4 linked regions of the Homo sapiens genome follow. The protein of the gene in region 4 purifies or fractionates together with the protein of the main gene of each other region. This does not show direct contact. Each region holds a gene or a part of one and is shown on either strand. Other genes may lie near its edges.

Region 1 (7,069 bases), on a different chromosome or scaffold from region 4:
AAGTGCTGGGATTACAGGCGTGAGCCACTGCGCCCGGCCACTGCTTTCTCTTTAAGCTCCTTTAGAACAAAGCTGCTGTCAAGGCTCACTTTCATCAGCCCCTAGGACATCCCACCAGAATAGCTCTCCACCTCCCTGCCTGTTCTAGTCCCCAAGTCCCCACTGCCTGCAGCTGGTTCTACCTTAGACATGTGACAGAAATCGCCAATTTAGAAAGTGGGACTCTTACCCCCACCATGGGCTAAATGACAAACTTATCCAAAATTCAGAGTGAGGAAGTTTCTGTTCCATTTAATAGACAAAATTAGCTTCTTTGAAAATTATGACTGATGGTGGTCTAAAGACTTAAAATGAGCTACGAAGGTGACATCACCCCACAACTAAATGTAATGAGAGCCATCAATAAAATTTACCCATATGAAGTCAAGCAAAATGTACAATGCTTGGGGAAATAAACTGCCTGCAGTACCTAGGGTGAGCTTCATCAGTGCTTGCTTTGGATCCAAGATGTAATGAGATTCTTCTTTCACGTCAACAATTGCCGCAAATTCTTTCACCTGAGTGGAGCTCGGAGCACCCAGTCTCTCTGCATATAACCAAAACAAATTTGAATCCAAAAGGTAGATGTTGAGAGTCTTGTTGGTTCTGCAGCTCAGGCCTGTGAAGTTTGTGCTAGTCATGTCCACTTCTGGAAAGAGATACCTGTTCTCCTCAATGTGAGGAACGGAGCTTGGGGCATCAACCTCACATTTCTTCTCAAGGGAAGAAAATGCAACAGTAGGGGCTTCAAAGACACCTTGTTCAGAGTCGATGAAGCCTGACACACCCCTGCTTATGGTCCTGCAACATGCAGTGTAGTAGCTGAAGGGGCTATAGGAAGTTAAAAAATTGCTGCATTCTATGCTGTCTGATGCCACATGATAAAAGGTCTGCTCCTTGAGGTAGAAAGAATCCAGAGCTGCTGCCATTTCAAAAAAGCTGCACTGTGGCACGCTGACCGAGCTCGGCTTCATGCCCCCGGAGGTCTGGTTGACACAGAGTTCACAGACGTTGTGGGTCCTGGAGAAGGAGTGCCACTGGGGCAGCACCACAGTGTTGCAGCAGGGGGACGCTGTGATCGTTGGCGGGTCTGGCAGCTGTGCCGGCACTTCCAGGGCCAGGGACTCCAGCACTGGAGCATCCACCCGCCGCAGGTGCTGAAGGAGACGCTCCACCACCTGGTCCCCATGACAGTTGTTGTACTCCAAGGCCACTTCGGTGATCTGAAATACAGGGCAGAGTTGGTGAAGGGCTTGGGGATGACTGAGGGACTAGCACCCCGTTAGCCACGTTTCACTTTCTGTAATTTCAGTTATCCATGGTCAACTCCGGTTCAAAAATACTAAATGGAAAATTCCAGAAATAAACAAGTCGTAAGTTTTAAACTACATGTCGCTCTGAGTAGTGTGATGAAATTTTTGCCATTACAAAAACTGCGAGCCATCCCTTTGTCCAGCGTGTCCATGCTGTGGATGCTGCCAGCCTGTTACTTAGTAGCCAACGCAGTTATCAGATCAACTGTCTCAGTATCACAGTGCTTGTCTTCAAGTAACCCTTTATTTATTAGAAGGGCCCCCAAAGTGTAAGGATAGTGATGCTGGCAATTCAGATATGCCAAAGAGAAGCCAAAAATGCTTCCTTTAAGTGAAACGGCAAAAGTCTCAATAAGGAAAAAAAAAGAGGTAAGGATGTTAAGATCTTCGGTAAGAACGAATCTTCTACCCATGAAATTGTGAAGAAAAGTGAAATTCGTGTGTAGTATATACAGGGTTCAGTACCATCTGTGGTTTCAGGCATTCATTGGGGGTCTTGGAACGTATCACCAAGAATACGCAGCAGGGTAGATGAGAGTGCAGGGGGAGATGGTTACTATATTTTTAAAAATACAACCCCAGGCATGGCACTCCTGGGCCAAATGGTACGCTGCCCATGAGATAAAACCTCCACACAATCTGGCCCGTTTGGCTTTCCAGTCTCACCCTACCCTCTTCAGAACAGACCAGGCCCTCCTGCAATGCCACACCTTTACGGAGTCCTGGCTGGGGACACCGGCTCCTCCATCTGTTCCCAAGGCCCAGCACCAGGGCAGCTGCTTCAGGGAAGCTAGTCCTACTCCCACTCCAGGAAGAGCTAGTTTTTGCACCTCCAGTGTCCCTGAGACCCCTTCTACAGTCTCACAAGCTTCTGCTGAGACATCCCTCTTCCCCACAAACTTACAGAACCTCACAGGCAGAAGCCACATTGGATTTATCCTGCCATCCCCGGGGCCTAGCACAGGGCCAGGCACATAACAAATGCTCAGTAAACCCCTGATGAATGAGTGGCAGCTCAGGGTAATGCACACAATCCTCTGTCTTGGTGAGATTTGCCACTTTACCGTCAAGCCAGTATTGGCAATTTGAATTTATATTTTATTCTAAGATTCTTCCATTTCCAAAAAGAATATTTCGTTACCCACCTCCCATTCTGGTTTCCTGAGAAAGACATGTAAGTTATAATCCAAAGGCATTTACTCTCTAAAACAGAAGAGTCTGTCAACTTGAATCAAATCTCACCACAGTTAGTTACAGGGTGCTGTCACTCAGGATTTTGTTTCGCTGTGTGTGTGTGTGTGTCTGTGTGTCTGCATGTGTAAAACAATTCAATGAGTGTAATTTCCAATTTAAAAACACAAGTTTTATAAAAATAAAAATAAAAAAGTTTTATAACGTAATATTTATAGTTAATTCAAAACATACATATTTGTACACAAAAATAAATTGTTTCAATAGTTCTCGGCATAAAAAAAGTCACTTTATAACCCACCAGAAAACTACTGGGTCAAGAAAAGAAGTCACTTTAGATGATAGGCCAGTGCTTGAAATTTTATTTCCCCTGCACAAAAACATCTCAGTGGTTTTTGGATGAGGCTCTGACAGCATGCAGTACTAACAAGGTCAAGCCTATATAATCCGTGAAGAGCCCAGATGCCCTCTGGCCCCATCCTGGTACTGTTTTAGATTCAAAGACGCAGTAATAGACAACTACTCCCACCCACTCCCGCAAAAACCTCCATAAGACTTCACGATTTACTGTAATCTTTTACAGAAGTCCAAGTAGGAGATCATTAATTATATTATAGAGAAGAAAATTCCTTGAAAAATCTTTCTTCATCTCTTTTAGCTTCAGTATCTCATAAACAAAGCAGCCACGTAAAGAATATTTTTAATTGAAGAAAGTATTCTGTCTACAGCAATGCTTTTTTTTTTTTTTTTTTTTTTTTTTTTTGAGACAGAGTTTCACTCTTGTTGCCCAGGCCGGAGTACAATGGCATGATCTCAGCTCACTGCAACCTCCCACTTCCAGGTTCAAGCAATTCTCCTGCCTTAGCCTCCCAGGTAGCTGGGATTACAGGCATGCATCACGACACCCAGCCAATTTTTTCTATTTTTATTTCGCCTGGTTAATTTTTTGCATTTTTAGGAGAGACGAGATTTCACCATGTTGGCCAGGCTGGTCTCGAACTCCTGACCTCAGGTGATCCACCTGCCTCGGCCTCCCAGGGCTGTAATCCCACTGGGATTGTAAGCATGAGCCACCGCGCCCGACCAGCAATGCTTTTTTTTGAGACGGAGTTTTGCTCCAGTTGCACAGGCTAGAGGGCAGTGGCACCATCTTGACTCACTGCAACCTCTGCCTCCCAGGTTCAAGCGTTTCTCCTGCCTCAGCCTCCCAAGTAGCTGAGACTACAGGCGCACACCACCATGCCTGGCTAATTTTTATATTTTTAGTAGAGACGAGGTTTCACTATGTTGGCCAGGCTGGTCTTGAATTCCTGATCTCAGGTGATGTGATCCACCCTCCTCAGCCTCCCAAAGTGCTGGGATTACAGGCGTGAGCCACTGCGCCCAGCCAGCAATGCTCTTAAAGAGTTAGGCATTATCATTTTTCTCCTATGAAGGGGAATTTATGTTTCTATTCCTTTTACCTAACAGGCAGTTTTGAAAACACAACTCATGTCACATTCTGTGTATCACTTGATGTCATTTATTTCATGTGAATAATTAAGGAAATCTTGGCAAATAACTGTTCGCACAGTAGATGTTTCCTTCTATTTTCTTTAATCAGGGAAATCTGTGAGCCTGAACATGCTAACCACGCCTTTGCTTACCAGATTCAGACGATGTGAATGCCTCAAATAAACACCTTTAAAATAGGAAACAAGTCACGAAGACTCTTTGCTGGCTGAGGTAAGCATTTCCTTTGATTAACAAGTTGTGTAATACACACTGTGATGTCTTATAACCTCTCTAGAACTCTCTAGAGACACCAGGGTGTCAGTGGCCTCACGCCAGTGTCAGGATCTGTACTTTTGCATGTGTGTGTGGGTACACATGCAGGTATGCATGTGTGTAGAAGCAGCTACCCACTATGGGCTTGGTGCGGCCACCATATGGTCACTCCTGACTGGCATCCTACATGCACCACAGCACAACTGTCCAGAATGTTGGTGCTTGGTATGCCCCCAACTCTATTCCACTCACTCTAAGATGACCTCTCTCTTCTCAACAATGCAAGCATCCTCAAAGTTCTGCCCAATATTAGGCCTAAGGTGGTAATGAAAAAGTAAAGCCACCTAACTCTTTCGTGGTCAACAAGCTAATGAATTTACAGCTCATCTTGCGTAAGTACAGCGTTCATCCTTCCCACCTTACCCAAAGGCTTCTTCATCTCTAGTCACTGTGTCACAGTTTCCCCGATCATAGACCCTACTTTCCACCCTCCACCTCTACCACCCAAGTTCAGGTTCTTACTACTTCGCAGTTTTCTGGAACCCTCCTGCCAGAAAAACGTTCGTAATGATAACGCACAGCCCTGGCTGCATCTCTTCACTGTCAGTAAGACTTGTATGGGCCAGGTGCAGTGGCTCATGCCTGTAATCCCAACACTTTAGGAGGCCAAGGAAGACCGATCGCTTGAGCCCAGGGCTTTTGAAACCTGCCTGGGTAACATGGCGAAACCCCATCTCTACAGAAAAATACAAAAATTAGCCAGGCGTAGAGGCGTGCACCTGTAGTCCCAGCTACTTGGGAGGCTGAGGTGGGAGGATCACCCGAGCTCAGGAGGCAGTGAGCCGAGATCATGCCACTGTACTCCAACCTGGGCAACAAAGGAAGACCCTAACTCAAAAAAAAAAAAAAGAGAAGACAAAGACTTGGATGACTATGGTTAATCTTGAAATCCTCAGAGAAGTCCACAAGGCCCTCTCCTCCAAAGGCTTTTTCAAGATCTCTCCCCAGTTAGCCCTTCCTGCAGACCACAAAACCCGGCCTCCTTCCTAACACCTAAACCTGCAGCAACTCCCGTCCCTCATGTCTCTGCTCAGGGTCCTCCTTCCCGTAAGTTTTTCTCAACCCATCAAGATCCTGGCTGCCCCTACAAGTCCGTCTCGAATACTTCACCCATCCAAAGCCTCTGCTAACTCCTCCCCTGCCCGGAACCCCGCTTTCTGAGATGGCACCCTCCCTCCTCTGGTTCCTCCTGACCCTGGGCCTGATCGTCCTCTACTTTGAATTATAGGCAGGCTTTCACTCCCTGTACTGGACAAGCCTCTAAGACCACAGGACAAGATGGTGTCGCATCTATCCTTTCTCCCCTGGAGCTTCCCAGCACAGTGCTCAGTAAACATTTGCCAAACTGACCTGAAACAAAAAGGGAAATGTGCTGGACAGGCACTTTGCTTGTCTGAGTAATTCATAATACGGTGAGATGCCACCTCGTGTTCGGTCATCTCACCCACATGCTGAAGTTAAGGGAACGCACTCACCTCACAGAGACAATGGGAGCCCCAAAGAAAGGAGTCACAGGCAAAACCATGATAAAAAGGAGGCCTGTTGGTAGGTGGAGGATTTGCAGACTGCTGGAGGGGACACTCATTCAGAAACAACAGGCGAGAAAGAGTCTTCCCACCAGGTGCCTAAATCCAACCACAACCCTCTGGGCAGAGGCTGTGGGCTCCTGCCACAAAATACAACCCAGCCAGGACCCTGACACACCCAAACCAGACAGGAGAGAACTCTCCAAATCCACAACCACAGCCACACCACCTTGACCGAAAACCTTCCTTTCCTACAATGAGCTTTAAGGCTCTTAATATTAGATACAGTAAAGGCCTAGTCATTTGAAATGGTGCCTCAGTTCACAAAATATCCATGTAGTGAAAATTTTCTAAAGAAATAGTTTTATTACTTTGAGTCCTCCCTAATTAGAGGGGAAGAAACAAAGCTATTTCATTTCTCTCCTCTTTCTTCCTCTAAACCAAAGAGCAGCATTCATTCAGAATACTCCCCAGAGGGAATCATAACTTGAGCAAAAAGACTCCAGCACAGCAAAGGGAGGGATCCACCTGGGCGAGAAGTCCTGCCTCCCTGTCCCTCCAGGCAGGAGGCCAGGCCAGCGCTGAGGGGCTCAGGTCTGCTTAGCTGGCCAGTGGTACACTGGCTGTCTGAAATTGGTTTTGGCCAATTAAGGGATCCTTGAGGGAGTGAAAAAATAAAAACCTCAGTAAATGCAATTTTGCCACCCCAGGCTCGCTCTGCATACTGTGCCTGCTGTCTCTCCAGGCTCGCTCTGCAAAATGTGCCTGCTGTCTCTGAGCGCCTCCAAATGCTCCGTGTGGAAAATAAACTCACGCCCAGAGCAGGCGCACCAGATGAAGCCGAAGACAGGCAGGAACAGCAGGCTCCGATGGCGCTGCCTCTGAAAACCACTCTGGCTTCTGCACGACAGGGAAGGTTCAGAGAAACAAGGTGTCCCAACATCGCTGCTGCTGCTCGCTCTCCTCTGCTGTCCTGAGGATGGCCAGGGCTGGCAGTCTGGCCAAACCCCCAAGACAATGGCATCTCCTAGGCCACACTAAACTCGGCCTGTGTTCCTGCCACTCCCTGTTTCACCCCCTAAACAGGAAGCTCAACAGCAGCCACATCAGAAGAGGGCATTTGGTCCTTCTCTAGAAGGGCACGGTGTGGCTTCCCTGCCTCTTCCCACTCAC
Region 2 (7,069 bases), on a different chromosome or scaffold from region 4:
CTTTTCCTTCTCACTCATTTCCTGATTTGAAAGAGCATATGGGGCCAGTCGCAGTGGCTCACATCTGTAATCCCAGCACTTTGGGAGGCCAAGGTGGGCGGATCACCTGAGGCTGGGAGTTCAAGACCAGCCTGACCAACATGGAGAAACTCCATCTCTACTAAAAATACAAAATTAGCTGGGCATGGTGGCTCATGCCTGTAATCCCAGCTACTCGGGAGGCTGAGGCAGGAGAATCGCTTGAACCCAGGAGGCGGAGGTTGCGGTGAGCCGAGATCACACCATTGCACTTCAGTCTGGGCAACAATAGCGAAACTCCATCTCAAAAAAATAAAAATAAAAAAGAGCATGCAATTTAGTTAGGAGCCCTGGGTTCCAGGCCTAGCTCCTGCACTTAAGAGCCAGAGGCGAGCCATTTCATCCCACTAGGCCTCAGTTTCCATATCTGAAAACATGGGGATAATTAACTCCTAGTAAGAAAACCACCCAGAGCCACTGAAAGGAACAGATGGAAAGAAATGAACTTGTGGGCAGTTGTGGAGGATGGAGCCTTGTAGAGGGGATTTGGGGTTTCAGCAACCAGAGCCTGTGGGCAGATGACAAGCCAGAAATGCTGCTCACCTGGCCGAAGTGGGTAGCCCTCTCGCTTCTCCACTGTGTATCCCTGAGGAATGTTGTAGAATTCCGGGAGCCCCCCAAACTGCTTCCATACAGTGTAGTAGTTGAGGAAGGTCCTCATGGCATTGTCAATGTCTCCAATGAGGCTCTGTGGGAGAAAGTGGCTGTCAGGCAGGTAGACACCAGGCATAAAACCCCACAGACAACCTTAAGAAAAGACAAAGTAAAATCTGTGGGGCCAAAAAGGCCTTGAATCAATCCCTGAGTCTGCCAGTTACTCAGTGTGGTGCTGAGCCAGGCACTGGACTTCTCTGAGCCCCATCTATAAAACGTAAAATACACCACCTATCTCATGCATTGTTGGAAGGAACAAAGATTGTATATTAAGTCCCTAAATCTTCAGAGTCAATGTCAGCTAACAGTTTTGGAATTCGGCCAGCCAGTTAAAAATTCTAAGAATAGAGAAAAGTTTGTGCTAAGGCTCACTCCCACACCACACCCCCAAAAGATAACCATTTTTGTTTTTGTTTTTGAGACAGGGTCTCGCTCTGTCACCTAGGCTGGAGTGCAGTGGCACAATCACGGTTCATTACAGCCTTGACCTCCTGGGCTCAAGAGATCCTCTCACCTCAGCCTCCCAGTGCTAATTTTTTTATTTTCTGTAGAGATGGGGGTCTCACTTTGTTGCCCAGGCTGGTCTTAATCTCCTGGGCTCAAGTGATCCTCCTACCTCAGCCTTCCAAAGTGCTGGGATTACAACCATCACCCATCTTGCCTGGCCTCAGATAAACATTACTGGTTTCTTGTATAACCTTTCAGAGTTTCTTTATGCATGAGTATATGTTATTTTCCCCACACTAAAAAATAGCCTTTGGTTCTTTATTAATAGGGATATTAATTATCTCCATATTTTTAGATATGGAAATTTGGCTTTCAGATATTTTTATTTGAATTGGTTCCAACAACTAATGTGGCAATAAATAATTCTGTATATATGTCACATCAAATAGATGTAAAATGTTATGTGTAAGATACATTTTCAGAATTAGGATCACTGGGTCAAAGGATATATGCATTTATAATTTTACCACTATTGCTAAGTAGCCATTACTATTAATGTAATCTCACAGGGAAGCAGCTGACCCTGACATCTTCATTGGATGTCTCATGGACAGAACAAACTTGGCACTTCCTAAACAAAATTCTTGGTTCCCTTACTTTCCCACGAAATTGCCTCCCTACTTTGGCCTTTTTCCCTTCTTGGTAAATGACACAATGTCTACCTGGTTATTCTGGATAGAAACCCGGTGGCCACTTTTTTTTTTTTTTTTTGAGACAGGGTCTCACTCTGTCACCCAGGCTGCAATGGCATGATCATGGCTCACTGCAGCCTTGATCTTCTGGGTTCAAGCAATCCTTCCACTGCAGTCTCCTGAGTAGCTGGGACTACAGGCATGTGCCACCACCCTAGGCTAATTTTTTATTTTTATTTTTATTTATTTATTTTTATTTTTTTGAGACGGAGTCTTGCTCTGTCATCCAGGCTGGAGTGCAGTGGCGCAATCTCAGCTCACTGCAAGCTCCGCCTCCCAGGTTCATGCCATTCTCCTGCCTCAGCCTCCCGAGTAGCTGGGACTACAGGCGCCCACCACCACGCCCAGCTAATTTTTTGTATTTTTAGTAGAGATGGGGTTTCACCGTGTTAGCCAGGATGGTCTCAATCTCCTAACCTTGTGATCCGCCTGCCTCGGCCTGCCAAAGCGCTGGGATTATAGGCCTGAGCCACCGCGCCCGACCTAATTTTTTATTTTTTGTAGAGATGAGGTCTCACTATGTTGCCCAGGTGGGACTACTTTTTCTTAAAACTTTTAAAAACGTAGATTATAAAAACATTTTGGTACATGCACTATTTTGGAACACCAAAGTGGGGTAGATTAGATAAGCTCTAAGATCCTTCCAGCTGCAACTCTACCAGACCATGTAATGGAAAAACAACGAGATGGCACAGCGGCACAAGCTGCTTCCTGCCCTTCCTGAGGCCCACTGTCAAGAATGAGATTGGACAGAAACGCCCAGTGGAGAAACACCTGTTGCCAATGGCCATTCCTGCCCAGACTGGAAATGCACTGTCGACTTTAAGTACTGTAACACTCCATGGCAAACTGGAAGCTCAGTTCCTGACACTCAATTTGGCAGAACTCTAAATCTATCTAATTCACTCTAGGTCTCTCTTCCATCCTCAACCTGTCCCTCCAAAAAAAGTACTCAAGCAATTAACAAAGTACATTATTTGACTTATACATCAGAATGAGCTTGCTTTGCCAGACTCATAGAAAGATGATCACATTCTTTGATCATTCCTACCTGAAGACCAGGCCAGTAGGCCTCCAAGGACTGGAAGACTGGCATGGACACAGTCCCCTTGTACATCTGAACCCACAGGTACCAGTCATCGAAGCGGGTGTAGTTCCGGATGGCTTTGTTATACTCTGCAGTGGGGGAGATGGGATAATGGACATATGAGTGATTAGGGAGAAAAAAGGCAGGCCTGGACAGCGGAAGCGAGAACTTACACTTTGGAAAGAGCACCAGGATGCAATGAGGCAAGGAGGCTAGACAAGAGCATGGATTCTGGAGTCAAACTTCCAGCTCAAATTCCAGCTCCAGCTCTACCACTTGCTAACCGTGACCTGGGGTGGGTTTTTCCCTTTTAAGCCTCAGCCTTATGATCTATAAAATGGGGAGGCCAGGCGTGGTGGCTCACATCTATAATCCCAGCACTTTGGGAGGCCGAGGTGGGCGGATCACCTGAGATTGGGAGTTCGAGACCAGCCTGACCAACACGGAGAAACCCTGTCTCTACTAAAAATACAAAATTAGCCAGGTGTGGTGGTGCATGCCTGTAATCTCAGCTACTTGGGAGGCTGAGGAAGGAGAATTGCTTGAACCCAGGAGGCGGAGGTTGCTGTGAGCTGAGATCGCACCATTGCACTCCAGCCTGGGCAACAAGAGTGAAACTCCATCTCAAAAAGAAAAAAGCAGAAAATAATTGATGTGGTTTGGCTGTGTCCCCACCTAAATCTCACCTTGAATTGTAGCTCCCATATTTCTCACGTGTTGTGGAAGGGACCTGGTGGGAGATAATTGAATCATGGGGGCCGTTTCCCCCATACTGTTCTCATGGTAGTGAATAAGTCTCACAAGATCTGATGGTTTTATAAGAGGTTTCCCCTTTCACTTGGCTCTCATTCTCTCTTGCCTGCACCATGTAAGATGTGCCTTTCGCCTTCCGCCACGATTGTGAGGCCTCCCCAGCCATGTGGAACTGTGAGTCCATTAAACCTCTTTTTCTTTATAAATTACCCAGTCTTGAGTACGTCTTTATCAGCAGTGAAAATGGTCTAATACAGTAATGTTAGGTATCTGTGGAATTTTTCAGTCATTTATTTATACCACAAACATTCGCTAAGCACCTACTAGGTTCCAGGCTCCTATGAGTTTGTAAACAAGACAAAATCCAGCCTTCAGAGAACTTACATTCTAGTAGGAACTTGAATTTATCCCTCATATCTCTCCCCTAGATTGTAAATCCATGAGGCCTGGGACTTTGTTTTGTCTACTGCAGAATCCCCCACACTAGTACAATGAGCAATAAACATTTTCTGAATGAACAAAGTACCAAATATACATGCAAATAAATAAGATAATCTCAAACAGGAGTTGTAAGGATTATATGAAACAGTCCATGTTCAGAGCTTGGCACAATGCTTGGTACATCCGTGGTATTCAATAAATATTTGTTGAATAAATGAGTAAAGTAGTCCCCCCTTATGTGAGGAGAATACGTTCCAAGACCCTCAGTGGATGTCTGAAACCATGGATAGTACTAAATAAACTCTATATACAGTCATGTGCCATATAACAACATGTTGGTCAACACTGAACTGTAGAGATGGTGGTCCTATAAAATTATAATAGAGGTGAAAAATCACCACAGCCTAAAGATATCACAGCTGTTGTAATTTTATAATGCAATGCATTACTTACTTGTTTGTGGTGATACTGGTGTAAACACACCTACTGTGCTGCCAGTCATAAAAGTATAACACATACAATTATGTATAGTACGTGATATTTAATAAACAACCATTTACGCGTTTATGTATTTACTATATTATTATCATTAGATAACTCCTTCCTCTTATATAAAAAAAGTCGGCTGGGCGTGGTGGCTCACACCTGTAATCCCAGCACTTTGGGAGGGCGAGGTGGGCGGATCACGAGGTCAGTGTTAGACCATCCTGCCTAACACGGTGAAACCCCATCTCTACTAAAAATACAAAAAAATTAGCTGGGTGTGGTGGCGGGCGCCTGTAATCCCAGCTACTCGGGAGGCTGAGGCAGGAGAATGGCGTGAATCCGGGAGGTGGAGTTTGTAGTGAGCGGAGATCACACCACTGCACTCCAGCCTGGGCAACAGAGCAAGACTCTGTCTCCAAAAAAAATAAAAACAAAAACAAAAATTAGCTGGGCGTAGTGGTGGGTGCCTATAATCCCAGCTGCTCAGGAGGCTAAGACAGGAAAATCACAGGAGAATTGAACCTGGGAGGCGGAGGTTGCAGTGAGCCGAGATGGTGCCACTGCACTCCAGCCTGGGCAACATAAGCAAAACTCTGTCTAAAAAAAAAAAAAAAATGAAACAGCTTCAGGCAGGTCCTTCAAGGAATTCCAGAAGGCATTGTTATCAATCATCTGAGATAACAACAGTTCTGTGAGTGTTACTGCCCCCAAAGACCTTCTAGCAGGATAACATGGGGAAGTGGAAGACAGTGATATTGATGATACTGACCCTAGGCCTAGGCTAATGTGTGTTTGTAGCTTAGTTTTTAACAAAAAAGTCTAAAAGGTGAAAACAAAATAAAAAACTAAAAACAGAAAAAAACTTAGAGAATAAGGATATAAATAAAATATTTCTGTATAGCTGTACAATGTGTTTTAAGCTAAGCATTATTACAAATGAGTCAAAAAGTTTTTTAAAATTTTAAAGTTCATAAAGTAAAAAAGTTACAGTAAGCTAACGTTAATTTATTATTGGAGGCCAGGCATGGTGGCTCACGCCTCTAATCCCAGCACTTTGGGAGGCCAAGGTGGGTGGAGATCACCTGAGATCAGGAGTTTGAGACCAGCCTGGCCAACATGGTGAAAACCCATCCATCTCTACTAAAAATACAAAAATTAGGCCAGGCACGGTGGCTCACGCCTGTAATCCTAGCACTTTGGGAGGCCGAGGCGGGTGGATTGCCTGAGCTCAGGAGTTCAAGACCAGCCCGGGCAACACAGTGAAACCCCATCTCTACTAAAATACAAAAAATTAGCTGGGCATGGCAGCGTGCACCTGTAATCCCAGCTACTCGGGAGGCTGAGGAAGGAGAATTGCTAGAACCCGGGAGGCAGAGGTTGCAGCGAGCCGATATTGCACCACTGTACTCCAGCCTGGGCAACAGAGTGAGACTCTGTCTTTAAAGAAAAAAAAAATCAGCCAGGCATGGTGGTGGGCGCCTGTAATCCCAGCTACTCAGGAGGCTGAGGCAGGAGAATCACTTGAACTGGGGAAGCAGAGGTTGCAGTAAACCAAGATCATGCCACTGCACTCCAGCCTGGGCAACAGAGCAAGACTCTATCTCAAAAAAAAAAAAAAAATTTATTACTGGAGAAAGAAAAAAAAATTTAAATAAATTTAGTATAGCCTAAGTGTACAGTATTTATAAAGTTTACAATAGTGTAATGTCCTAGACCTTGACATTCACTCACCACTCACTGACTCACCCAGAGCAACTTCCTGTCCTGTGAACTTCATTCATGTGCCCTTTTATACTGTATTTGTACTGTACTTTTTCTATGTTTATATACATACTTACCATTCTATTACAATTGTCTATAGTATTCAGTAGAGTAACATGCTGTACAGGTTTGTAGCCTAGGAGCAATAGGCTACACCATATAGCCTAGGTGTGTAGTTGGCTATACCATCTAGGTTTGCTTAAGTACACCCTATGATGTTTGCACAATGATGAAATCACCTAACGATGCAATTCTCAGACTATATCCCTGTCATTAAGCAATGCGTGACTACTGTTTTCCTATACATACACATCTATGAGAATTCTTAATTCATTAAATTTTTAAAAATTTTTATTTTTGAGACAGGGTCTTACTCTGTCACCCAGGCTGAAATGCAGTGGTATGATCACGGTTCACTGCACCCTTGACCTCCCAGGGTCAAGCAATCCTTCACCTTGGCCTCCCAAGTAGTGGGGACTACAGGCACGCACCATCATGCCCAGCAAATTTTTTTTTATTTTTTGTAGAGACGAGGTCTCACCATGTTGCCCAGGCTGATCTTGAACTTCTGGGGTCAAGCAATTCTCTCGCCTCAGCTTCCCAAAGCACT
Region 3 (7,594 bases), on a different chromosome or scaffold from region 4:
GTGGTTAATGACCCAGCCCCTTTAGCTCTCTCCCACTTCGGGACTGCTGCCATCCTAGAAAGCCCCCACTTCATTCCCAGCAGCCCTCATTGTGATGAAAAGGATCCCGAGGCCAAGTGTATGTAGGCAGACTCTGCCGTGCAGATTTCCCTGTCTGCAGGGAGTAGCAGCAGCAGGCGACAGGAAGGCACAGAGAAGGAGAAAGGAAACAAGTTGACTGCCTTGGAGTCCTCCAGAAATGTCTGCAGTGTCCCAGTGGGCATCCAGGAGGAAGTCCTGGGAGGACAGATGAGAGCCCGGGGAGGCGTGATTGGGTAAGAAGGAGCAGCTTGTAGGTGACCCATGCCTAGTGCTCACAGGAGAGCTGCCTTAAGCACCGTCTACCAGGCAGCGAGGGTCTGCTGAAAAGAAGCATTCATGGCTGGGGTTTTTCTAGTGTGACTCCCTTCCCAGTGAGAAAGACCTCAGAGAACTTAAAAGGAAGGGCACAGAAGAGTGGCAGAGAGGGTGAATGACAGCGTGGCATGCTCCAGGGCTGGGCAAGAGAGCCAGGAAAACGTAATGTATACTCCGCTTTACAGAGATGTTAATTAATGCCTGCCTTGTCCTAGAAACCAAATTGGTACCTAATGCTAAGTGCAGAAAGTGCAGAGATTTTCTGAACCCAGATGTTTAGCTTATAACCAGCATAATGATACTAGCTTTGCATTAAAATGATGGATCCTGAGGCTGCGAATACATGAGAAAGGAAAGAGGGTAGGGAGGAAAGCAGAGAAAGGAGTGGAGGTCTACAGGGAAGACACAGACATTTCAGGAAGATCCTGTACCCTATCCCTTTGCCTCTTCCAGGTCCCATGAGGGACTGTTTACCTGGGAGGCACCCACTGTTGCTGGAGCTCATTATTTCTTTTGCAAACCATGTGCTGCTGTACGCGTAGGTGGGATCTGCCTGTCCACGCCCTCAAGGGGCATGTGGGGAGAAATGTTCCATTTCTTCCACAGCCCGGAAGACAGAGGTGGACCCCATTGTCACACATGGCGGGGGCGGGGAGCTGACCACATTTAGCCAGACTCTGAGAACGCATGTGTGTATATATATTGGGTGTGTGTGTGCACACGCCCACCATTCTTAAAAAGCAAATAAGGTTTCTTCCCCCTACTGGGGTCTCTCCATTGTGAGAGATTTGCTTTATTCCATCTATGCTTTTCAATCAATCAAAGGGCAGCTCACACAGCACACAGCGGGAATACAATCTCCCTCCCGGGGTGTCTGCGCTTCTCCCCAGCCTAGCCAGAGACCTTTGCAGGAGCTGAAAAAAGTTTGGAAATAGCGGAGTCAGGGTGCTGAAAAAGCCCTTTCATTCAGCCCCTATCTTCAGGATTTACAAAAACAACCCAAATTCTGAGCCTAGCACTGAGGCCTCCTTGTTCAAAAGAATGTTTGCTCCTCTTCCATCATGTTCTGTAAGGCTCCTAACATATTTTTTCCACTGGTGGGTCTGTGGGATACTCTGAACACATGATCTTGGACAGAGGGTACAAGCTTATTCAGTTTTGTGGGAAAATGATATGATCATGTTGCCTAGAAAGCTACCTCAAAGTGACAGCACCAGAAACACAGGAGCTTGTACATATATATTCAATTCCGAATTTGATTTGGATCTCATGTTCTTCTCCCTATGACAACTGAGACCCTAAATTAGTTGCTCTTAGACCCCAAGAAGGGAACTATGGAAAAGCCTCTTAGAACCCCAGCCACTTCCTACCTCCTCCAGAAAAAGTTAAAATGAGCAGCCTGTGAAATTCCAGCCAGAGAGAACAAGAATGAAAATGCTTTCGGGAAATAGGACCTTAAAGCACGGGCGTCTGGGGAGTGATTCTACAATCGGAGCAGGCTTGGGCTCTGGGGGACGCTGGCAGACCCACGAATGCCTTGCCTTCTCCGGTGGGCAGTGCCGCCACGGTCGTGAGGGAGGGGAGCCTCCTCTTTTGGAGGACTATATCCCTCGTGCTTCCCCCTTCTAGTTCTCTTTCTCAGACACACACCACGAAAGGCATGTGACAGGTGTTCGCCAGCCGGAGGCACCGGGGAAGGCAGCCCCATGTGCCCAGGGAGGGTAGGGAGGTGAGAGGGGACCCAAGTCCTGTGTCTCCAAGTCCTGTCTGCTTGCTGCTAAGCAGGCACTGAGGCTGTGAATAAGGTCTTACCTTTTAAGGAGGATCTGACCCCCGTACCTTCCCTAGACAAGCAACATACGCGGCGATGCTTTAAGCCGCTTTCTGCCTGAAATCTCGGCGCATTCCCGGGGAAGCAGTGCCACGCTTCAGAAAGGCGTTTGTGCTGCCTCTTACTGGGGAAACGCAGTGTCTGTTTCATATGCGCCGCCCTACAGAACTGCAGCCCCAACCGCCTATCTGGCCTCCTCCCCGGGCGCTGGGCCACCACTCTCTCCAAATATGCGTCCGAATATCTGTGGGTCTGTCTCCCGTTGAAATCCCAGGGTGTCCAAAGGCCACGGGGCCGCGATGACACTGGGTAGGTCTCCGGAAACCTCTCAGGACTTCTCCCATTTTAAAGCCCAGCTAGGGACGAAAGGGGCTGGGAGCTGAAAAATTGCTCCCTCAACCTCCCCGGGTGGGAGGCAGAGCCGGGAATACACAGAATCCCACCCCGAAAGTCCCGGGAAAGAGAAGTCTGAGTCCAGGAGCGTGAGAGGAGAACACACCCGGGAAATCCCTGCTCCGGCCGCTGCACCTCCGCGGGCGTCCAGGTGGGACGTGGGCAGGTGCGCGAGCGCCGTGTGTGCCGGTGTGGATCTGTGTGTGTGCCTGCGTGTGTGCGTGTGCGTGTGCCGCGGGCTGGCTCCGGGACACTGAGGACTCCCGGGTCGGCCCAGGTCTGTCCGACCTTGCTGCCCTCGCCGCCCGCCCGGCCCCACTCCCCGGCGGGCCGGCTCCTTACCTGGACGCGCCGCGTTTCCCTCCTTCAGCGGGAGCGCCGCATTGACACTGCAGATGGAGCCTATGCCGCTGCCTCTCGCCCTCCTCTGAACGTGTGCGTGTGCGCGCGTGTGGCTGCCTCCTCCAGCCCCAGCCCCGAACGCAAATACTCCACCGAGGCACAGGGAAGCCGGGAGCAGCCGAGGAACGCGGAGGGCGCCGAATCAGAGCCTGCGGGGCTTGACAGCTTCTCTTGCGGCGTCCAAGGTGGGCGTAATGTCCAACAAAAAGGTCGGAAAATGGGGATCGATTCCGAACACCCCTTTCCTCCACCCAGCCCCGGAGCCCGAGCAGCGGCGGCGGCTCTCGGGGGCTGCGGTGGCGACGCCGGGCTGCCCCCCTTCGTCCCCACCCCCGCGGGCTGAATGTCCTTGATGCCAAGCGGGCACAGCGGCGTCACTCCGCGCCGCCCATGCTCGCCCGGTCGGGCCGCTGCCCGGGCGCGGCGAGTGCGCGGGGGACCCGCCGGGGAGCGCTCTCGGCGCCTCTGCGCGCCTCTCTGGGTAGCGGCGGCCGCCCCCCGGCAGCCCGCGGCCGGCCGCGCCGCGGCAGCCCCCACCCTTGCCGAGACACTCGCCGGGCAGTGCCCTGGGGCCGGGGCTGGGGGGCCGCGGGAGCCGCCGGCTGCTCCCCGGGGAGGCGCGGGGCTGCGGCGGTGGTGGCTGCGGCGGCTGGCGCTGCGGCGGCGGAGAGCTCGGCCGCGGGCCGAGCCGGGCCTCCCGGGCGCGCCCCCGGCCCCCCGGGCGGGCTGCTCGCAAAGTTTGCAGGGGGCAGGGAGCGGGGCCGCCGCTGGCTCGGCCGCCGCCGGAGCTCCCGGGCTGCCTGCTGCCGCCGCGGCTCGCTGCTGCTGTGCATTGAAGCCCGGCCAAGCGCTGCAAAAACTCCAGCTGCCTGGCGCTCTCTGGGTCCTCCTCTCCTCCCTCCCGCCCTCCCTGCTTCCCTTCCTCCCTCCCTCGCCTCGCCTCCTCTCCTCCCTGCCGCCCGCCGCCCGCCGCCGCTCCCTCTCTGGCTCGCTCTCGCTGGCTCGGAGCTCGCGGCTGACATCTAGAGCGAGGGAGAGCGGCCGGCAGAGGGGGCAGGGGGCGCCTCCCTACATGCTCCCACCCGCCGCCGCCCGGCTTGCCGGCTCTCCTCCGCACCAACGTTTGCCGACACCCCCCTGGGTCCCCTCGGCCCGCACGGAGCTACCCTGGCGGTGGCGATGTGGGGCGGAGAGAGGGGCATACATGGGTGACCGGAGCGCACGGCGCGCGCTCAGAGGGAGGCGCTCAGCCGCCTCGGAATTTGCAGCTCTGGGCGCTGGCCGTCGGAGGGACCCTCAGGTGCTCAGAGCTGACACAAGCGCACACTGACTCTGAGGCATACACCCATTGCTAGTCAGAACCCCTCCCAACACCCCACCAAGTCACCCCCACATGGCACCCAAGGAGGCCGAGGACACTGAGGGCACAAGGCCCGCACGAGAGAACATGAGTGGCCAGTGCCCCAGAGCTGGCTTGGTAACCTGACTTTTCCATTCATGTTTATACTGAGCGGCTCTCCTGGCTCCTCTCTTCTCTGAAACCCTAGATCCTAGACTACATCCAGAACAGACCATGCCAACATCAGGGTGGTTTCTGAAGCCCAAAGAAAGAAATCACCATGTAGCTCTGGTTTAGGCAGTGAAGATGGGGAGTGGGTGGCACTACCTCCCAAACCTCTGCCTAGATCCCCCTAGGAATGGGCCCACCCACCAAGAGAAACCGAAGGGATTCCCACACCTGTTAACTCAACTCTGTGCATGCCACCCTCATCCTCATACCCGCTCCCACCATAGTCTGAGGGAAGTGGCACCTTCAGCAGAGTCCAGTAAGCATTCCCTGGGATAGGCAACCAGCAAGGACGACCCTCTAAAGGAGCCCATGGCTCTTGGCCTCCTCTCTCCTGTCCCTTCTTTAGTTTTCACTGTCCTCACACCCAGAAACTCCCGCCCATTACTGTCCCTCCCATCGAAACATCTCAGAGCCTCCTTATTAGGTGGACATGACTGATAATGGCTTAAATGCCTATACCTCCCTATAGGGGTTATATTCTCACAGAAATCGAAGTTGTGTGAATTGGGGAGCCTTTGAAAGGAGCTGTGAGATGACAGCTTAAACAAGCCCCAAGGTGAGCGGCACATATAGGTCAGGCTTGGCCCACCCAGAGAGGACCCTGCTGAAACTTTGCTCTCACCAATGAGAAGATGAACCAAGCCAGAATGAGGAGGAAACCACATGTTTGATTCTTTGGTTAAAGGATATTCCAGGAGACAGCGTGGAGCCCTTTTAGTCTCTGGTTCTCTGCTGAGTCTTGCATGGCCCAGAAAGCAGCAAGGAGTTATCTTATTAAGCTTACATGAATACATTGATCTGACTCCACTCTTCCCAGAAACCCTGAATCCCAGACTCTAGATAAAGCACACAATATCAGGTTAGTTTCAGAAGTCCAGAGACACACATAACAAAATCACTCAATGCTACTGCCTCTTGAACATCCTTCCAGGGTGGAGGAAGCCCAGGGCCAAATGCCTCTCTCTGCAAGACTGGGATTAGCACAAGGCCAGCCGGGCACTGAGGATACAAAATCCAAGGAGGCCCTGTCACCCCAAGGTCCATGTAAGGTTTGCATCACCTGATCCTGACACTGCTTCTAGGTGTCCCTTTTAAAATTGCTGCATGGGTCCATCACGGCCCATTTCCAGAAGTGACAGCCCGGATAGCCCCATGAAAGTCCCTAATGGGTTACTTAAGGAATATCGTTCAATTAAAGGCGCGGGGGAGACTCCTTTCAAACTTCTGTTGGCCACTCAGCTTTCAGGGTATGTCATAAAATGCTGAAAGGAAGGGGGGAAGGTGAGAAAACAACTCTGTCTCAATTCTCAGTCATTCTAGCATGTATTTTTAATACAATCTGATTGTCTTTTTCCTCCTCATATCGGTTGTATTTGTGTGTGTGTGCGTGTGTGTGTGTGTGTGCGTGTGTGTGTGAATATGGCTTGAGTTCCAGGCCCATTTCCTGATGGATGGACGGGAAGTCAAAGACCTTTTTTTTTTTTTTTTTCCAGAGGTGGCAAATAAAATGTGTTTATTATTCTTTATCTCCTGCCTAGTGTGTGGTGTCATTTATTTTCATTCAAAGAAATGAATGCCATGTGGTGCCTGAAGAGTAATAACAGAGCCAAATGACAGGGAAGACACACAGCAAAAAGCTGGACCAGCCACGGGCAGGTGAGGGGCCCAGCGAGCTCTCCCGTTGTTAATGGGGCCAGGGGCCATATCTCAAATTGCCTTTCCCCGGTTGCCTTCCACTGAATAACACGGTAAAAGGCATACCAAAGGGGGCAGTTATCATATTATCGGAAGGAGGAGTAGAAAGGGTCAAATTAGCTGCAGTAGAGGATTTTTTTTTTTCAGTGATGACCCATTGGATTGACTCCCTTAAGTTAGGAGAATGGAATGGGGTGGGATGAGTAGGGCCTCTACATTGGAAGTTAGAAAACACATGTCCTACTCCTGGCTCTGTCATTGGCCAGCTTTACAATTTGGAGCGGGTCACGTCCTCTCAATGATACCTCATCTCTCACCTGACACATTCGCCCCTTAGAGTTGCAATGACATTCAAAGGACATACCATCTTATTAATGTGCTTTGAAACTCTAAGGTAGGTACAAAACACATGTAGGGAATTAGAGTCGCTTTCCAGATGAATGTATCTTTTTATTTTTTTCAAATAGAATGATACAATGAGGGTAGGCCTTCTGCTATCTTGTCCCCACCCCAAGAATAAATACACAGGCAAAAGCAGCATCTTACCACAGTTCAAAATGTGTTTCTGCATTAGGTACAAGATCTTCTGGCTCTCACACCTCCTCTACCCCCTCTCCCTTGGTGAGGGCTAAGGGAGACACAAGTAGGACCATCTAGGTGTCCCCTACTGACAATGGCTCTGTGAGTCACTCCCTCTACCTCTTGCCTGGTCGTGAAACTGGTTATGTCATTGTCTGGACCCATGGCCACAAGAGGGAGAAGCTAAATGGCACATTGCTTCAGAGAGTCCTGTTTTCTAAAGAAGCTATGTCTGTGGGACTTGGGTTGGGGTTTATTGCTGGGTTTAGACAGAAAAAGTATTGGTTCATCTCCCACAGCTGAATAAAAGGACCAGTTTAATAGGAAAGAGGAGAAGAAACTCTTAAGTTTCCCCTCACTTAGCTACCACCATTTTATTAGCCTAGGAACAGTGCTGCTATTTAAGTTGATAAAAGCCAGATTTGCTCGTTAAATAAATCACCAGAGCCTGGTGGTGCTAGAGAGACATTTTCTTTCCCCCAAGAGCTGCCCCCATGGCTGGGTCTTGTACCTTGCACTGGATAGAAAAACCACAGGCAGGCAGTCAGCAGCTTAAAAACCTAAATTGTGGCGCCACCTGCAGGACAGCAGGAATATCATCAGTATCCCACAGCTCAGCAGAGGAGGCAAGAGGAGCCTTCCGCAGTGACACAGGTGAGGCCAGGGTGCCCTCTGGCCCCTGCTTTCTGCATGTGTCACCACATGTCCACAGCACACTCCAGCAGCCT
Region 4 (8,039 bases):
GGGGCAGCAATAGGGAAGCTCTCTGCAAGCCGAGGACAGAGGCCTTGACAGACGAATCCAACCCTGCCCATGCCTTGCTCATGAACTTTCAGCCTCTGGAACTGTGGGAAAGTACATTTCTGTTGTTTAAGCCATCTACTCTATGGCATTTTGTTATGGAAGCCAAAGCAAACTAATACAGACCTCAAAAGGCAATTCCATACGAATAGAAGAGCAGATGGGGATATGAGAGGCATCTGACTTTAAGGCAGCCTTGTGAAAGCTATATGAAAATGACATAAGGCTTTAAGTTGATTTCAAATGCAGTAAAAATAAAATACTTCTTGACTCTCCCTAAAGGGGCCATCCTCACAGAACCCCTGTCTTTGAGAGCAGCTGTCTTGCCCGCGGACTTGCTTTTTGCCAATGGGGTGGGAGCAGACGTGAGTAAGGTGGACCTCTTCCAAGTAGTGGCCCATCACTGACCTCTACTTTGACGCAAAATTAGCAGAATGAAAAGAATGAAAAGATGCTGTTTCCCCCTGGGTCCTGGAGTGAACACAGTGTACAGCACAGTCACAGCTGACATGTGGTGGATGTGCAGCTGCATAAGAAATAAACATTTCTTTTATAAGCCAAATAACATTTTGAGGTCTTAACTGCAGCGTGAGTTAGCCTGAGTGGATGTAGACAAAATTGATGAGGTGATGTGACTGTCTAGCAAAGCTTACAAGGTAATTCTTTTTCGGTTATCTTTGCTTAGATCGTAGCAGGAACATTGAATTAAGTTATGGGAAACCTGCATTCAGAGGTCAAATCGTGAACTGTGTTGTCCGTAAAAAAGACCATGCTGATGGGGAGATTTAAAACTAAGTCATATGGGCCGGGCACGGTGGCTCACACCTGTAAACTCCCAGCACTTTGGGAGGCCGAGGTGGGAGGATCACCTGAGGTCAGGAGTTTGAGACCGGCCTGGCCAACATGGTGAAACTTCGTCTCTACTGAAAATACAAAAATTAGCCAGATGTGGTGGTGGGTGCCTGTAGTCCCAGGTACTCGAGAGGCAGAGGTAGGAGAATTGCTTAAACTGGGAGGTGGAGATTGCAGTGAGCCAAGATTGCACCACTGCACTCCAGCCTGGGTTACACAGTGAGACTCTGTCTCAAAAACAAAAAACAAACTAAGTCATATGAAAGAAAATGAAAAGGAATGGAGAATATTTAGTCTGGAAAAAAAAAAAAGGGAGAAACGCCTGTGGGAAATGGACTGTACCCGGTCTATGGAGCCTGACTGGGTTACCAAAGGCTTTTGATGAAAGAATTGGGGAAGGAAATTTTTATTTAACATTTATGTTTAAATTTACATTTAAATTATACTTACTGTTAAAAACTTTTTTTTGTTTATTTATTTGAGACAGGGTCTCACTCCTTTCTGCAGGCTGGAGTGCAGTGGTGCAATCACGGCTCACTTGTAGCCTCAACCTCCTGGACTCAAGAAATCCTCCTGCCTCAGCCTCCCTACTAGATGGGACTACAGGTGCATGTCACCATGCCCAGCTAATTTTTGTATATTTAGTAGAGATGGGGTTTCACCATGTTGCCCAGGCTGATCTCAGACTCCTGGGCTCACGTGATCTGCCTGCCTTGGCCTCCCAAAATGTTGGGATTACAAGGCATGAGCCACTGTGCCAGGCCAAAAACTTATTGAAAAGGAAGAATTTCCTCACCCTTAGAACTGTTCCTGAAATGTTGTGAGAACCTCCTCACTAGTGATATTTTGTTGGAAATACTGAGGGGGGAGTTCATGGGTTGTAGTGATGTTGGGTTGGTGGTTTTCAAACATTTGCAGCAGTTTAATAAAACCTAATATGAAACCCCCAATATAATAGTGGTCATTATAAGCCTAAGTGTTTTATATATTCAAAATAAAAGCATTTAATTTGTATAAAGCCAGTCACTATAATAATGAGGCCCTTTTGATGAACATACAGTTTTGAATTGGGAATATTTATTCATCAACTATTTATCAAGTAGTCTCTATTTGCCAAATACTGTTGCACATGTTGGAAAAACACAGCAGAGTTAAGGAGCTTATAGTCCAGTAGATGAGACAGTCTTTCAGCCACCTAACCAATAAGTCAGATAACTTTAGATGGTGATAAGTGCTATGAAGAAAATAAAATAAGGTAATGTGGTAGAGAGAAGGTGGCTGGCTGTAGACGTGTTAAAATATCATGGAAGGCCTCTCTGAGAAGCTGAGGGCTCTGAGCAAGATTATTCCAGACAGAGGGAATGGCAAGACAAAGGCCAAGGTGGAAATGAATGGGGGCATGTTTGAATAATAGTGATTGCAATAGTCTGCCATCCAGAAGAAGAGATTGAGAGGCAGGCGAGGGAAAAATCATGGAGGATCTTTTAAGCTAGTTCTCAAACTATCCATGGTAAATGATTAAAAAAGAAAAATGTTCCAGCCACAGACTAACACGTGATCCAACTGCACATGACTCATTGCATTCAGCCTGTGCTCCGTGATCATCACCATGCACGTTTGGCAACCTCACAGCCGGACTCTCCCCTCTTGAATGAAACTACTGATCGTATGCCTGAATGTTATCCCAATGTCAAATTGCTATGAAAATTTCCCAGTGTTGACTCTCAATTTCTATTCTTATTGTTCTTAACTTGATGTAAACCAGGAACACACCATTCACGGATCTGTTGGCCACACTTTGAGTAGCACATGCAAAGCACCTCGGATTTTACTTGAAGTGCATTGGAAAGCACACATGGGGAGGTGGGAAAGAGAAGACTCAAAGATCACTTGTAGGGTTGTGGTGATGCTGCTCTTTGTGGAGATGGAGAAGACCAATGGAGAACACATTTGGGAGGAGAGAGCAAAAGTTCTCAACTTGGGTGAGAAATATCTAAACCTTCAAGTAGAGAGGTCCAGTAGGAAGTTAGATAATATGAGTCTGGGGCTCACAACTGAGGTCAAAGTCAGAGTTGTAATTTTGGAAAGTCATGATAGCCTGCATTTAAGGCCTCAGACTAGCTGAGTTATCTAGCAAGTGTGGAAATGAAAGAAAAGAGATCCTAGGACTTCGACCTGGGGCATTCTGACATAAGAATTATTGACTCCATCAGTTTTAACATCCAAGAAATTTTATCTTAACATTTATGGAGCCCCAAGGCTTCACAAAAACCTGGAATAAAATTCCCAAGTGTCACAATGCTGGCATGAAGTGGCAGTCAATAAATATACATGGAATGAATGAATGAGCTCCAAAATAAAGGTTTCAAAAACCCCTGAGATTTTGCGATTTTAGAACCCCAAGTTTCTTCCCACCCATGATGTGTTAGGTTGAATGGTGACTTCCCCAAAAGATATGTCCATGTCTCAGAACCTGTGAATGTGACTTTGTCTGGAAAAAAGAGTCTTCTTTGCAGATGTAATTGAGTGAAGAATCTTGAGATGAGATCATCCTGGATTATCTGAGTGGGCTCTACATCCAATAAGTGTCCTTATAAGAAACAGACATGGAGGAAAAACACAGACAGATGGGGAGAAGGCCATGGGGCTGTGGCAGACATTGGAGCTGCGGTTTCAAGCCAAGGATTGACAGCAGCTGCCAGAAGCTTGAAAAGGCAAGGAGGATTCTAGCCTAGAGTCTCCAGGGAGAGTGCAGCCGCCTGGCTGACACACGCCAGTCCTGCCAACACCTTCATTTTAGACTTCTGGCCTTCAGAACAGTGAGAAAATAGATTTCTGTTGTTTTCAGTCATCCAGTTTGTGGTCATTTGTTACAGAAGCCTCAGGAAACTATTGCACATGGTCTCTTTTAGCTGATGCTGATGCAATATTTCCTTTGGAGCTCTGCTGTATTCTGATTCAGTGATTCTCAACTCTGGCTGAGCATTAGAATTGCCTAGATGTTTTCTAACAAAGGTTGGTTGGTGTCTGGAACATCCTCAGAGATTCTGATTCAGTAGGGCTGTGGTACAGGCTGATATTGGTGTAGAGTCAGACATAAGAATTGCCATTTAATTAGTCACAACAACTTAACATCAAGGGGTGGCACAGAGGTACAGGGGGTGGGAATACCTATATAATTGTTTCACCTTAGGAATTTGCTTTGAAACATAACAATATGTGTCTTTACATTCAAGTATATTCTTAGAAACTAGCTGAAGCCGTTTCGCATCCTTGTGGCACTAAGTCCTGTTTCCACTGTGAAACAGTTACCAAGACAGTCCTGTTTCCACTGTGAAAAAATAAATGGATGTTCTGACAGGTGGCCACCATTGCTGACCTGACCATTCTCCAGAAGCACCAGGAGGCATTGCTTTCTAGACTGAAGCTCAGTCATGCTTCACTTTAGTCTAATCAAAAAGATTTGCTTGCAAGCCTTCATTCCAAATGGTTCCAGTGCCTTCCATACAATCAGATAATGACAATTGTGAGTTTCTGGTGGCATGCTACTTCATGTAATTAAAAAAAAATTGCTGCGTAGATGTGCTGAATAGGAGAAGAGTAAGTTATTATTTGGAGGGAAGAGGATTCCCAATTGTGGAACAAAGCAATTCCTTGTACCCTGGTTCTACATAAATGTTTCTTTATTTTTGAAGTTGCATGACCCCCTGTTGTGGTCTTTTTTGCACACATGTCAGAAAGCAGCCATGAGTGCATTGTAGTTGGCAATGTGAGCTTCTGTGTAAAGGGTCTTTGACGAAGAGCTCACTGCATCTACTGACTCCCCAGGATGTCTGAGGTCACAAGTTTGGCTGGAGCACATGAGCCCAGATAAAGAAGATGGTTTTGCCCTCCTGAAATAAAGCCAGAAGTGATCTCCTTTATTGTGCACTTTGGGTCATGTGCTAATGATGAGGGTTTCTGTAATACTAATCCCCCTAATGAAGGCTTCTCCCAGCCCTTACACAAGCCCCCAAGGCCCCGTGGCTTGGCAAGCCAGAGAGAATAAAAGCAGCACGGTGTTTGGCTTTTGAACTGAGTTCAAGGCAATTAAAGTCAAGAGCTAAGGAGGGAGGGAGAGGGTTTAGAAATACCAGCATAATAAGTAGTATGACTGGGTGCTCTGTAAATTAACTCAATTAGACAAAGCCTGACTTAACGGGGGAAGATGGTGAGAAGCGCTACCCTCATTAAATTTGGTTGTTAGAGGCGCTTCTAAGGAAATTAAGTCTGTTAGTTGTTTGAATCACATAAAATTGTGTGTGCACGTTCATGTACACATGTGCACACATGTAACCTCTGTGATTCTTGTGGGTATTTTTTTAAGAAGAAAGGAATAGAAAGCAAAGAAAAATAAAAAATACTGAAAAGAAAAGACTGAAAGAGTAGAAGATAAGGAGAAAAGTACGACAGAGACAAGGAAAGTAAGAGAGAGAGAGAGCTCTCCCAATTATAAAGCCATGAGCCCCCTTTGGTGGGGGTTTCTGCTCAGTTGCTTGGGCTGCAAAATCCTGCCAGGAGCCCAGGGTCAGTTCCCCCGAGTCTGCATGACGGTGGACAGCCTAGTGAACAAGGAGTGCTGCCCACGCCTGGGTGCAGAGTCGGCCAATGTCTGTGGCTCTCAGCAAGGCCGGGGGCAGTGCACAGAGGTGCGAGCCGACACAAGGCCCTGGAGTGGTCCCTACATCCTACGAAACCAGGATGACCGTGAGCTGTGGCCAAGAAAATTCTTCCACCGGACCTGCAAGTGCACAGGTGAGGCCCATGCTCCAAGCTTGGTGGGGAGGGCCAGAGCTGGGGAAAGAGCTCCTTCTAAGGAAGAGATGAGACTCTTGACAGAGACTCTTAGATTAGGCTTTGAAAGGCAAACCAATGATGGTTTTGGTCGGAAGCATATTCAATAAGGCTGATGTGCTGGTTTATTCTTCACACCCTCTAGTACATCTAGTTATGAAGACTAAATAAATATGGCGTGGGCCAAGCCTGCTTATATGAATGCATGCCAACATACTATTGGCTTGTTTGTTGGAAGGGGAATTTAAGAGCTTAAAAGCGTCAGCTTTGAAACTCGGAGCAAGTCCTTTCAAGATGGATTCGGTGCCCTCTCCTGAAATGGGTTTGCACTTGTTGAAAAGGGATGGGTGAAGCTTGGCATTCGGAAGACAGGAGTCAAAGGCAGGTGTTCTGGTCTCAGCATTTCTCATGATTTGAACAGATCTCTCTCTCTCTCTTTTTTTTGGAGATGGAGTCTCGCTTTGTCACCGTGGCTGGAGTGCAATGGTGCTATCTCAGCTCACTGCAACCTCCATCTCCCGGGTTCAAGTGATTCTCCTGCCTCAGCCTCCCAAGTAGCTGGGATTACAGGCACCCGCCATCATGCCTGGCTAATTTTTGTATTTCGAGACGGGGTTTCACCATGTTGGCCAAGCTGGTCCCGAACTCCTGACCTCAGCAGGGTGCATGTTTCTCATTAAAGCTTATGACCAGGTTGTAACTTTGACAAAATTGTCGAGACGTGGCAAGACAGAGCTTTCTCGAGGAGCTGGGGGTGGGGGGGGCGGGCGGGGGGTTGTTATTAGATAACAATGGCTTTTTGTCACTCTTCTCTGGACTTGAACCGGACATCACAAAATTTGCTCAGTGTCCTTCCTTTAGACTCTGGTCTCTCTCATTACCTGTTGCTTTGACATCTCTGTGCATTTCTCATTCCTCTAGCTCTTTGGGGCTTTTTCAAATCCTCTTCAATCTTTCCCACCTCCAGTTTCCAGCAGCCATATGCCCTTCGGGAATAAACACTCAAAGCCTGGCAGGGGGCCACTGAAATACAAAAAACACAAGTGGCAACCTCAGGAAAGCCCTTGGACACTGTTGTAGGCTGGGTGGTTGCAGAAGACTTTTTCCTTTTAAAAATACTTTTTACTTCTCTTCTCATAGGATGCTGGAACATAGGAGGATATAGGTCATTGAGCTTCATAAGGGGTTGAATAGGTATTACTAAGGGAACATACAAAGGCCTGTGATGTTGGTGTAGGAATGACATTCGATTTTTTTTTTTAATTTTAACTTTCAACTTTATTTTAGATCCTGGGGATACAAGTGCAGGTTTGTGACATAGATATATTGCACAGTGCTAGGGTTTGAGATATGATTGATCCTGTCACCCAGGTAGTGTGCGAAGCACCCAGTGGGTAGTTTTTCAACCTTTGACCCCTCCCTCCCTCCCCTCTCTAGCAGTCCCCAGTGCCTATTGTTGCCATCTTTATGTCCATGAGTGCCCAGACATTAGATTTCTTTTTTCACATTAAGAGTTCTGGCTTTAGGCCTGGTGCAGTGGCTCACGCCTGTAATCCCAGCACTTTGGAAGGCTGAAGTGGGTGGGTCACTTTGAGGTCAGGAGTTTGAGACCAGCCTGGCCAACATGGTGAAACCTTGTCTCTACTAAAAATACAAAAATTATCTGGGTGTGGTGGCAGGCACCTGTAATCCCAGCTACTCTGGGGGCTGAGACAGGAGAATCTCTTGAACCCAGGAGGCAGAGGTTGCAGTGAGCAGAAATCACACCACTGCACTCCAGCCTGGGTGACAGAGTGAGATCTGTCTCAAAAAAATAAATAAATAAATAAATAGTTCTGGCTTTATAATCATTTTGTAGTAATATTTTTAATTCTGTCATTCAGAAGAATATCTAGGTCCTGGTTTTGCCCTGGGTATTAATCATGACAAAAATTTCAATAACATATTGGATATATATTATCCAGCTTTTCTAAGTTTTTTAAGCATTTGCTTCTATAGACCTTCTCTCAAAATTATCATGGTGTTTTAGACGAATGAGGAGCAGGTTGCTGGTGTGGTTAGCGTGATTGAAAACCACACTAACACAGTAACTTCTTTGTTCAAAACCCCAAAATACTTCTAGAACAATTATTTCTATGTCAATCAATGAAAAAGTGCTGGCCAAGCGCAGTGGCTCACGCCTTTGGGAGCCAAGCACTTTGGGAGGCCAAGACGGGTCAGGAGTTCAACACCAGCCTAGCCAACATGGTGAAACCCTGTCTCTACTAAAAATACAAAAATTAGCGAGGTGTGGTGAT

What was found.
Region 1: the proteins of DCT (region 4) and TXNDC11 purify together in Homo sapiens (affinity purification with mass spectrometry; 2 studies listed by BioGRID and IntAct, with this or other methods). This does not show direct contact.
Region 2: the proteins of DCT (region 4) and EDEM2 purify together in Homo sapiens (affinity purification with mass spectrometry; 2 studies listed by BioGRID and IntAct, with this or other methods). This does not show direct contact.
Region 3: the proteins of DCT (region 4) and PLXNA4 purify together in Homo sapiens (affinity purification with mass spectrometry; 2 studies listed by BioGRID and IntAct, with this or other methods). This does not show direct contact.

What each region holds. Positions count from the first base shown.
Region 1 is NC_000016.10:11,690,821-11,697,889, forward strand, and holds part of TXNDC11 (thioredoxin domain-containing protein 11), read right to left. Parts: intron 1,263-7,069; coding exon 470-1,262; intron 1-469. UniProt on the Homo sapiens protein: May act as a redox regulator involved in DUOX proteins folding. The interaction with DUOX1 and DUOX2 suggest that it belongs to a multiprotein complex constituting the thyroid H(2)O(2) generating system.
Region 2 is NC_000020.11:35,123,269-35,130,337, forward strand, and holds part of EDEM2 (ER degradation-enhancing alpha-mannosidase-like protein 2 isoform 1 precursor), read right to left. Parts: intron 3,108-7,069; coding exon 2,983-3,107; intron 767-2,982; coding exon 622-766; intron 1-621. Other genes in the region: MMP24-AS1-EDEM2 (ER degradation-enhancing alpha-mannosidase-like protein 2), read right to left, coding at 622-766, 2,983-3,107. UniProt on the Homo sapiens protein: Involved in the endoplasmic reticulum-associated degradation (ERAD) pathway that targets misfolded glycoproteins for degradation in an N-glycan-dependent manner.
Region 3 is NC_000007.14:132,573,460-132,581,053, forward strand, and holds the start of PLXNA4 (plexin-A4 isoform 1 precursor), read right to left. Parts: upstream 3,012-7,594; 5' UTR 2,963-3,011; intron 1-2,962. UniProt on the Homo sapiens protein: Coreceptor for SEMA3A. Necessary for signaling by class 3 semaphorins and subsequent remodeling of the cytoskeleton. Plays a role in axon guidance in the developing nervous system. Class 3 semaphorins bind to a complex composed of a neuropilin and a plexin.
Region 4 is NC_000013.11:94,476,625-94,484,663, reverse strand, and holds the start of DCT (L-dopachrome tautomerase isoform 1 precursor), read left to right. Parts: upstream 1-4,981; 5' UTR 4,982-5,408; coding exon 5,409-5,703; intron 5,704-8,039. UniProt on the Homo sapiens protein: Plays a role in melanin biosynthesis. Catalyzes the conversion of L-dopachrome into 5,6-dihydroxyindole-2-carboxylic acid (DHICA).